Linked DNA regions of Homo sapiens. The protein of the gene in region 1 interacts with the protein of each later gene in a pairwise test. Each region holds a gene or a part of one and is shown on either strand. Other genes may lie near its edges. The genes, in order: GLE1, ZNF366 and CLCN7.

The links.
Region 2: the proteins of GLE1 (region 1) and ZNF366 interact in binary tests that used the Homo sapiens proteins (3 or more experiments, as listed by UniProt).
Region 3: the proteins of GLE1 (region 1) and CLCN7 interact in binary tests that used the Homo sapiens proteins (3 or more experiments, as listed by UniProt).

What each region holds. Positions count from the first base shown.
Region 1 is NC_000009.12:128,525,219-128,528,866, reverse strand, and holds part of GLE1 (mRNA export factor GLE1), read right to left. Parts: coding exon 3,444-3,648; intron 1,689-3,443; coding exon 1,576-1,688; intron 1,412-1,575; coding exon 1,342-1,411; intron 257-1,341; exon of another isoform or gene 1-256. UniProt on the Homo sapiens protein: Required for the export of mRNAs containing poly(A) tails from the nucleus into the cytoplasm. May be involved in the terminal step of the mRNA transport through the nuclear pore complex (NPC).
Region 2 is NC_000005.10:72,444,900-72,448,547, reverse strand, and holds part of ZNF366 (zinc finger protein 366), read left to right. Parts: intron 1-1,130; coding exon 1,131-1,305; intron 1,306-3,648. UniProt on the Homo sapiens protein: Has transcriptional repression activity. Acts as a corepressor of ESR1; the function seems to involve CTBP1 and histone deacetylases.
Region 3 is NC_000016.10:1,457,909-1,461,556, reverse strand, and holds part of CLCN7 (H(+)/Cl(-) exchange transporter 7), read left to right. Parts: intron 1-86; coding exon 87-152; intron 153-608; coding exon 609-741; intron 742-1,029; coding exon 1,030-1,139; intron 1,140-2,369; coding exon 2,370-2,450; intron 2,451-3,648. UniProt on the Homo sapiens protein: Slowly voltage-gated channel mediating the exchange of chloride ions against protons. Functions as antiporter and contributes to the acidification of the lysosome lumen and may be involved in maintaining lysosomal pH.

The DNA.
Region 1 (3,648 bases):
AACCTCTGGTTCTAAAGAAGTTTCTTCCTTGTCTGGTTCTCACTTTCTAAACCTCAGTCTCTGGAGAGAAAAGGAGTCCTGGAGGATGAACAAGGCGAGCTTGGAGTAATTTGGAAAAGCTAATGTTGTAGGACAGAAGCAAAGCCTGCAAGTCACAGCCTAGGTTCCCTGAGTGATGTTTTCAGCAGTAAACTGCAACTTCAAAGCTAAGAGCCATCCTAATAATTTGCCATAAAAGGTAGCTTGTTAAAAATGAGTCAAAAAGGCCGGGTGCAGTGACTCACGCCTGTAATCCCAGCGCTTTGGGAAGCTGAGGCGGGCGGATCACAAGGTCAGGAGGTCGAGACCATCCTGGTTAACACGGTGAAACCCCGTGTCTACTAAAAATACAAAAAATTAGCTGGGCGTGGTGGCGGGCAGCTGTAGTCCCAGCTACTTGGGAGGCTGAGGCAGGAGAATGGCGTGAACCCGGGAGGCAGAGCTTGCAGTGAGCCGAGATTGCGCCACTGCACTCCAGTCTGGGTGACAGAGCAAGACTACATCTCAAAAAAAAAAAAAAAGGGGGCTGGGCACAGTGGCTCACGCCTGTAATCCCAGCCCTTTGGGAGGCCGAGGCAGGTGGATCACCAGGTCAGGAGATTAAGAACATCCTGGCTAACACAGTGAAACCCCGTCTCTACTAAAAATACAAAAAATTAGCCGGGTATGGTGGTGGGCGCCTGTAGTCCCAGCTACTCAGAAGGCTGAGGGAGGAGAATAGAACAGCGTGAAGCCGGTAGGCGGAGCTTGCGGTGAGCCGAGATCACGCCACTTCACTCCAGCCTGGGCGACAGAGCAAGACTCTGTCTCAAAAAAAAAAAAAAGAAAAAAAGAAAAAAAAAAGAGTCTTCTTTTTTTGTTTTTGAGACAGAGTCTCGCTCTGTCACCCAGGCTGGAGTGAAGTGGTGTGATCTCGGCTCACTGCAATCTCCGCCTCCTGGGTTCAAGCAATTGTCCTGCCTCAGCCTCCTGAGTAACTGGCATTATAGGTGAGAGCCACCACACCCAGCTAGTATTTGTATTTTTAGTAGAGACAGGGTTTCACTATGTTGGTTAGGCTGCTCTTGAACTCCTGACCTCGTGATCCGCCCACCTCGGCCTCCCAAAGTCCTGGGATTACAGGCGTGAGCCCAGCCATGATTATATCAGGGAAACAAGATGTATGTCACTTATATGTACCCGATCCAACTGTAAACATTTGTTTGAATATACTTTTATAGGAACCTTACAGATACATAGATTTGGAGTCTGAAAGATAATACAATGAAATGAAAGGTCATGTTCTCAACCCCTCTGACCAACCTGCAATGGTAGAGATTTGGCTCACTGGGATGGTAGCAGCCTTCTGGAGGTCCATCTTTATCTTTTTGGCCTGCCAGAAGAGAACAGTGAGAAAGCAGTGTTCTGAAGAGCTGAGTAGATGTCACTTAGAATCAGGTAAAGTGACATGCCAGCTACATTCCTTTGGGACACGAAGTGATCATTCTCTGAGAACCATCAAGTCCACAAAATTACTGCCATATACCTCTCCCCTACCTGACTGTCCTTGCTGTTGGTCAGGCCCTCAAAGGTCAACACACACTGCATGGAAGCATCCTGCAGCTGCTGGTACCACTGCATTGTAATGTCTTGTACCTTCACCTGGAGGTCTGAGAAATAAAAGAGAGGTTTTAGTAATAGCTAGTATTTACTGAACATGTAATATGAGGCAGGCACTGTTATAATCACTTTATGTATGTACTGACTGCTTTAACTGTCACCATAACTATGAAATAGATACTATTATTATCTCCATTTTATAGAAAAGGAAACAGGCACAAAAAGGTTAAGTGATTTGCCATGGTCACATTACTACTAAGTAGAAAAACTAAGGCTGGGTGTGGTGACCCACGCCTATAATTACAGTACTCTAGGAGGCCAAGACAGGCCCAGGAGCTTGAGACCAGCTTGCACAACATGGTGAAATCCCATCTCTACAAAAAATACACAAATTAGCCAGGCAGGGTGGCGCATGCCTGTAGTCCCAGTTACTTGGGAGGCTGAGTGGGGAGGATCACTTGAGCCTGGGAGGGTGAGGCTATAGTGAGCCATAATCATACCACTGTACTCCTCCAGCCTGGGTAACAAGAGTGAGACTCCTATCTCAAAAAAAAAACAAAAAACAAAAAACGCTGGGCGCAGTGGCTCATGCCTATAATCCCAGCACTTTGGGAGGCCAATGCTGGCAGATCACCTGAGGTCGGGAGTTCGAAACCAGCCTGACCAACATGGAGAAACCCCGTCTCCACTAAAAATACAAAAAAATTAGCCAGGTGTGGTGGTGCATGCCTGTAATCTCAGCTACTCAGGAGGCTGAGGCAGGAGAATCGCTTGAACCTGGGAGGCGGAGGTTGTAGTGAGCTGAGATTGTGCCATTGCACTCCAGCCTGGGCAACAAGAGCAAAACTCTGTCTCAAAAAAAACAAAAACAAAAACAAAACACACCAAAAAAGAAAAATTAGACTCCCAGGCTGGGTGCGGTGGCTCACACCTGTAATCCTAGCATTTTGGGAGGCCGAGGCGGGTGGATCATGAGGTCAGGAGTTTGAGACCAGCCTGGCCAACGTGGTGAAATCCCATCTTTACTAAAAATACAAAAATTAGCCAGGCACAGTGGCAGGCACCTGTAATCCCAGCTACTCGGGAGGCTGAGGCAGGAGAATTGTTTGAACCCGGGAGGCAGAGGTTGCAGAGAGCCAAGATCGCGCCACTGCAATCCAGCCTGGGCAACAAGAGCAAATCTCCATCCCCTCCCCGCAAAAAACAACAACAACAACAACAACAACAAAAACCAGACTCCCACTGATCTGGCTCCAGAGTCAGCACTCTCAAACACTATGGTACACTGATTCTTTTTCTTTTTTTGAGACGGAGTCTCACTCTGTCACCAGGTTGGAGTGCAGTGGCACCACCTCAGCTCACTGCAACCTCCAGCTCCTGGGTCAAGCAATTCTCCTGCCTTAGCCTCCCGAGTAGCTGGGACTACAGGTGCGTGCCACCATGCCCAGCTAATTTTTTTATTTTTGGTAGAGATGGGAGTTTCGGCATGTTGGCCAGGCTGGTCTCGAACTCCTGACCCCTTATACGTATTACACCAACACATATCTGTGCGCATTTATTTAAAATACTCAGCAGCAGCAATAATTGAAATAATGTATCTGCTAGAGTTATACAGAATTTCAAGTCCTCACGCAAAGTGTTGGAATCGTAAATCAGACTCTACATCAACCAAAACTGAATGAAATACATTACATAAAATTCTGGTTAACTGTCCTACAGTTTAACACAACATTCAAAACATGCTCTTGTTTCTCTTCACATTTGAAACTTACGAGTTAAAGGACCACATCCATACTGAAACCCACCTTCATTCTGTTTCCCTCCTGGGCCCTGGCTGGGAGCTGGGGGCTCTTTGTGGGCCTCTGGTCCCTGCTGCATCTGTGCCTCTTGCAGCTTTACCTGGGCCTCTTCTTCATCCTGCCTCCTCTTGTCTTCGCAGGCTCTGGTGATCTCCTGCCCCAAGTTCATCAGGAGGTCCCGCATTTCCCGCAGAGCTCGCTCAGCCTCAGC
Region 2 (3,648 bases), on another chromosome or scaffold:
TTGTCCAATCACAGACACAAAATCACTGTTTGCATTCCTCCTGCCACAGCCAAGGAAGGGCTGAAATTGTCCTGTTCTAGTAAGGCTTGGGGACAACAAAAGCACCCCCAGAGAAGTCTGCTTCTGGGTTGCGCTTTCTGCATATACAAAATCACCTGTGAGAAGAAAGTTCTGCTCCTCTTCCAAAAGCAGTTGGAGAACCAGTTGTCCTTCATGTATTTGCACTTTGATTGAAATAGAGAGAATGACGAGAAAGAAAGAAAGAGTATAAAACATGCTTACTTCCTGTACACCTGAGATACTACTCTCACTACTTCAAATTTCTACCCAGAGAAAAGACACACTCCTTCCTTAGATGATTTTTCATTTTTTTATCTTTGAAATCCATGCCAGTAATTAGAAAATAAAGCAACTTAAAAAGCATTGTCTGATACATTGTATACAATAATACAGTGTATTATAATAATACATTGTATATAAGAATACAGTGTACTCTTTTATTCTCTTCTGCCTGATACAGAAGAGTTGTGTTGGGAGACGCACAGTATGGTCTGGTGGTTGACCATGTGTTCTCTGGCATCTGATGGCCTGAGTTCATTAACCCAGCTTCAGCACCCACCACTTGTATGCCTCGGCCAAGTGACGTAAGTCCTCAGATTGTGCGTCTGTAAAATGGGGGTGGTAATAGCAACCATCTCATATGATTGGTGTGAGAATTAAATAAGATATTCCATGGTAGACTTAGAACAATGCCTTCCATATTGCAAATGCTGCATAAATATTAAACACATAATCACATTCTTATTATTAAAGGAGGAACACTTGTAGCCACTGCTTTTTAGATCAGCTCTTCTCCTTTTCAAAAGCTTTTATTCAAAAGAAGCTTTACAAGCTTTGATATTTTTACTTTGAATTTAAAGATCTCTGAAATCCAGGAACAAATCTCATGAATCTACCCCTACTTGCTCCACCTCTGAGGCTCCTTCCTGATTTCCTTATGGACATTTTCCTTGCAAGCAGATTAAAATGTCAATGTCCAAACAAAGTAGAAACGGTATCTGTGCTCCAGGGGCCTGGATGGGGCTTCACTCGGGCAGAGTAACCTGTGTTCTCATCCCCATCTTCAACAGCTTTGTGGGAAGGAATTCAACCGGATGCACAACCTGATGGGCCACATGCACCTGCACTCAGACAGCAAACCCTTCAAGTGCCTCTATTGCCCAAGCAAATTCACCCTGAAGGGGAACCTGACACGCCACATGAAAGTCAAGCATGGAGTCATGGAGCGGGGCCTTCATTCCCAAGGTAATCACTCTTCTGGGAAGCCCTGCAAGTCAGTCCAGTGGACAACAAATGGGAGCTGAATTCGTTTTATGGGGCATTACCTTGAGGGTTATTCTTGTCAAGACCACAGCAGAGTAGCAAGAGTAACCTTATAATGTTACTAGAAAAAATCTGATGCTAATTTCTGACATAGTAAGTACAAGTGAATTAGAGTAAATTGGACTATCATCATGATGCCAGTCGGTACCATTATTTGTTCCTTTGTTCCAGACACTACATCAGGTGGCTTGTCGCTAATATTCATGGCAACTCCAAGCTGGAAGAACTTCTATTATTTCTATTTTACAGCGGGGGAATGAAGGCTTCAAGAGATCAATTTGCCCAAAGTTGCTCTGCTGAAAAGTGGCAGAGTCAAGATTTGAACCTAGGCCTTTCTGACTGTGCAGCCTTTATTGTATCCTCTTCATGACTTTGCTGTGAATGGGCACGCAATTTTTCTTTCCTTTTTAGAAAACAGATGTGCAAGCCTTACTGTTAGCAGAAGTATGTTGGTAGCAGGCTAGGTCTTTCCTACTTGTTCACAATCAGACACACCCAAGGACAATTTTCCTGCTTGGTAGGTAGGGCTGATTGGCCCATATGCAGAGCAGGGGTTTACACCTCCCCCACTGAATCCTCACTGAACTAATGAAAAGTTCTCACTGCCTTTACCTTCTCAGTCCCAGAGCCCTTGGCAGTGAAGAGTTTATGTTCCAGATCTACTCAATTCAGCAGGGTTGCTCCTTAATCGTCTAATCAACCAGCCCTTCAATAAACAGGCAATAAATGCACTTGTGTCCAAAGCAGTGAACTACACGCAGCGGCAGATACTAGGGGAAGGAGACCATCTGCCCTCTAGGATGTCTGTGTTTGCAAAATCATATTAACAGCTTTTCGGTCACTAGTATGATCAAAGCACAGGGTGAGACACCTTAGGGACATTATTGCTTGGCCCTACAATGCCGTGAAAGAGACTGTGTTATTCTCATTTTATATAAGAGGAGACCAAGGCCTAGAGGTGTTAGATAAACTGCTCAAGGTCAAACAGCAAGTCTGAAGACAGAACTGGGATTCCAGCCCAATTTCTGAATCAAGCCAGTGCTCACTACCCTAGGCAGAAACATGGGGTGATTTGTTTATGTGCTGTTTCACTCACCTCCTTACAAAAGAGATGGTGGAGTGGACAAGCATATTCATAAACAGATAGACATATGCACACACAGTGTGAAACAAAATGATTGTAGCTTTCAGGTTTTTTACAGTACCCGCTGAGTTTCTAGTGACTCCTGGATAACAGGGAGCTGTGGTCACAAAAAAAGGGCTGGAGTTTGTGCAAAAGCCCTGAAAAAAATTGTAGTTAAAACAAAAACAATTTTATTTTTCCTGCAAAAGTTTTTCCCCTGAATTATTCACTGAATCTCTAGTTGCCTGAGCCACTTCCCCAAGCTAGACCTGGATTTTTCCGGAAGCGGTGAGGTTTGCTCTGTCATCAGGACGGGAGACATACAAGTCAGTGAGGAGACCACACTCCAACTGAAAGCATGACCTGGTCGCCATGATTTACCCCACACTGCTGCTCAAATCCTAAAAGACACCTAACAGCTCTGTTGTTCTGGAAAAATAACTATCAGAGGGTTGCTTTGAAAAATTTTAACAGACTTTCAACAATCTCAGTGTTTTCATCTACAAAGGGTATTAGCTTTTATTTTTCACTCTAGCTTTTGAAATGGCTCAAAAATCATTAAAAAGATCTTTCCTGTCCCCTGACAGGATTAAAGATACAGACAGCTTCATTGCCTGACAGCATCAAAAAGTGAACAAAATTGGACATCATCGCCCCTACCCTTCTTTTTTCACCCCCTCCCAGAAGCCTGGTCTGGCTGCACCCCAGGACCCCTCCCTTCCTGTTGCTCCTCCTCAGTGTCCCGCCCATCCCTGGAGGCCTGACTATTGGCTCATCAAAGGTCAAAGCCTTAAAGACAGGATCAAATGAAACTGCCATGCTGAAAAGCCCATCCCTACAGCCCTGCAAACTGAAGGCAAAAGTGAGGCCTCCTTGAATCACTGTGCCCAACAGCAGGGACACTGGAGGTCAGACACAGGGGCTGTGTGAGCTCCTCAGAGGACCTCTTCATGCCATCTCTACCCTGTCTATGAGTAGGCTGTTGGCAAAGGGGCCACAGTCAGGGGTGGTGTCTGCTGCCCCAAATAGGTTCTCTTTGTTTTGTTCAAGATGAAAATGGCTTTATTATTGATTTACTTTTGTTTATGATAAAACATATGCTCATGGTAAAAAATAAAACAATAATACATTAAAAGTGAAAA
Region 3 (3,648 bases), on another chromosome or scaffold:
CCTGCCAGCCCACTCCCGGTCCCCTGTGCCCGCACCCAGAGCGTGGGTTCGGTGCTGAGTGCTGCCCTTGCTGTCCCGGCCTGCAGAGCTTGGACTATGACAACAGTGAGAACCAGCTGTTCCTGGAGGAGGAGCGGCGGATCAATCACACGGTGAGCTGGACGCCGCTCCCTGCAGGGCCCCACGGTGCGGGGCCTGGTGCCGGCCGGGCCTGGGGCTGCTCTTCTGCCGGGGTGAGGTGACGCACCTCCTCCCTCCTCCTCTGACTCCGCCTCTGAGGCCTGTGGTTCGTCTGGTTTCTAGAGACAGTGGGAGGGTCACGGTCACCGTAACCAAGAAGGCTGCTCTTACGGCCGCCAGATGCGGTGCCCAGCATAACAACCGCTGGCTGTGAAGTTGTTGGGAATTCACCCACCTCCCCGAGTCACCCTCGGGCCCCGGGTGCGCCTCAGATGTTGGCCAGAAACTGTCCTTTGTGGGACTCAGCGCACCGTGCACACTGGGCCCTTCATAATCCCGGGGCCTGCAGGCGGTCTGGGCGGTCCTGCTGCTGCCAGAGTGACTGCGCCAGGGCCCTGCCTGACCCTCGCCCTGACCGCGCCCTGCAGGCCTTCCGGACGGTGGAGATCAAGCGCTGGGTCATCTGCGCCCTCATTGGGATCCTCACGGGCCTCGTGGCCTGCTTCATTGACATCGTGGTGGAAAACCTGGCTGGCCTCAAGTACAGGGTCATCAAGGGCAGTATCCTTCCCAGTGCGGCCGCTGCAGCTTGGGAGGGGGGCGTGGCCTGGGCCGAGTCCCGGGCAGAAGTCCTGAGCCCAGCGTGTTCCAGTGCAGGTGGAGGCGGCCCGGCCAGGCTGGCTGTGTCCCTGTCATGGTTGGGCCGTGAGACGTCTCTGGGATGTCCAGTGAACATCATGGCTCCACCCAGCAGGGTGGCATCTGCCAGGCTGGTCTGTGGGGCAGGGCTGAGGTCTGGGCTGGGTGGTCATGACGGGGAAGCAGCCAGCCCTCCTTGATGAGCCCCAGATATCGACAAGTTCACAGAGAAGGGCGGACTGTCCTTCTCCCTGTTGCTGTGGGCCACGCTGAACGCCGCCTTCGTGCTCGTGGGCTCTGTGATTGTGGCTTTCATAGAGGTGGGTGGCAGGATGCCGCAGCTATGGCGGACCCCATGAAGGATTGGGGGTCTTGGTGAATGGGCGGGAACCCCTGCAGCTCACCCACCCCCACCATCACATTGGCTGACAACCCGGGCACTTTTAGAATCACGTGGTCCAGACTCACAACCTCAGGAGGAGCAGACACACCAGGGCCTCTTCACCCCCAGAGCCCTGGGGTGCTGCTCCTGACCTACCAGCACAGGCCTGGGCACCCTCACCCCACTCCGCCCCTCCTTCCATCTCCTCACTCTGCCCTCCCCTCCTTCCATCTCCACCTCCGCCTCCACCACGTCCTTGATCTGTGTCTGGGCTGGGAAGAGTGAGAGCAGCTACCCCAACGACATGAGACCCTTCCCTGGGGCCCCAACGTGTGTGCTGCTCTTCCCTTCCCTGAGGCCCCGACGTGTGTGCTGAGCTCCCCTTCCCTGGGGCCCCGAAGTGTGTGCTGCTCTCCCCTTCCCTGAGGCCCCGACGTGTGTGCTGCTCTCCCCTTCCCTGAGGCCCCGACATGTGTGCTGAGCTCCCCTTCCCTGGGGCCCCGACGTGTGTGCTGAGCTCCCCTTCCCTGAGGCCCCGACGTGTGTGCCGCTCTCCCCTTCCCTGGGGCCCCGAAGTGTGTGCTGAGCTCCCCTTCCCTGGGGCCCCGAAGTGTGTGCTGAGCTCCCCTTCCCTGAGGCCCCGACATGTGTGCTGAGCTCCCCTTCCCTGAGGCCCCGACGTGTGTGCCGCTCTCCCCTTCCCTGGGGCCCCGAAGTGTGTGCTGAGCTCCCCTTCCCTGGGGCCCCGAAGTGTGTGCTGAGCTCCCCTTCCCTGAGGCCCCGACATGTGTGCTGCTCTCCCCTTCCCTGGGGCCCCGAAGTGTGTGCTGAGCTCCCCTTCCCTGAGGCCCCGACATGTGTGCTGCTCTCCCCTTCCCTGAGGCCCCGACGCGTGTGCTGCTCTCCCCTTCCCTGATGCCCCGACGTGTGTGCTGAGCTCCCCTTCCCTGGGGCCCCGACGTGTGCGCTGCTCTCCCCTTCCCTGGGGCCCTGACGTGTGTGCTGCTCTTCCCTTCCCTGGGGCCCCGACGTTTGTGTGCTGAGCTCCCCTTCCCTGAGGCCCCGACGTGTCTGCTGCTCTCCTCAGCTCCTGGGGCTCCTGGGGCTGAGGGGCTGCATCTGTCTCAGCCTGGCCGTGACCCACTCAGCCGTGCTTCCCCTCTTTCAGCCGGTGGCTGCTGGCAGCGGAATCCCCCAGATCAAGTGCTTCCTCAACGGGGTGAAGATCCCCCACGTGGTGCGGCTCAAGGTGAGGGTGCGGTGGCCCTGGCTGGGCAGGGTGGGCGCCCGCTCTTTGCTGGTTCAGGAGCAGCTCTCTTGGCTGCCTGCCTTCCAGAACTGGCCTCAGCCACCCTGTGTACTGGTGGCACTGTGTGCAGATGGGCTGGCTGGGTGTGAAGGGGTCACCTTTTTTTCTGAAAGTGGTAACAACTGGTATTTGCACATATTAAATTACGTAAGAAATGAGTAGTCATACAGAAATGCTTGCGTGGTGCATGTGTGACACAGCTGTGCGACGCGTCTGTGACTGTGGGCTGCGTGGTGGTGACTGATTCACCGTGGAAGCTGTCGTGGTAGTGGGCGTGTAGCAGTTTCCCGCTTTCAGTTTGCCTCATGGTCATTTACACTTGGTGTTATCAGAGCATCTGGTTCTGGAGGTGCTGGGAGTCCTGACCCAGTTCCGCTGTGGTTGCTTCTGTCTGTGCCGCCATCGTTCCTTAGCCTGAGACTTGCCGCAGCCCCGTCCCGTCTGAGGATGGGTGGGCAGCATGGCCGCTGCCCCCTGGGGGTGCTTCCGGGGCCTGGTCCCCGTGGCCAAGGAGCGGGACCAGTGTGTCCCCTCTGGCGAAAGCTCCCAGGTGACCTTGGGGTGCCCCTGCCCTGTGGTGGGAGATCAGGTTTACTGGAGCAGCTGGGAATGGCGACCCGCCTGTCACCCGCGCCAGGCTGGCCTGAACCTTCTTGGATGTTGCTCTATAACTTTTGTTGGCTGAGGGTTGAGTTTGCTCGGCATCTTTAACATACAGTCCTCCCCCACACACTCAGCGCCCTTGTGTTTAGGGTCTGCGCCCTTGTGGGTTCTGCCCTGGGGCAGGGAGGCTGATAAACACCTTACACACCTTCTCAGGTGGAGAGGATGAGGCCCCTGGGGGCGGGGAGCAGCCGAAGGGAGAGGGGGCATCGTGGAGCCGCAGGTGACCAGCCTTCCAGTGCCAGGGGTGTATGAGGAGCCTTGCTAGGCGGGGCTAGCGGGAACACCTCCCCTGTGCTGGCCACGCTGGCGGAGGCAGGTGTGCCTGTAGGATGCGGTGGGCGGCCCAGCTTTGCCTCAGGAAGGAAGGAAACGAAAGAACCCCTTGCCTGCTCAGTGCTGAGGCCACAGAGGGCAGGTCCCCCGAGTGAGTGCGGGGGACGCTTGGCTGCTGTTTAGCTCCACTGTGGCCATG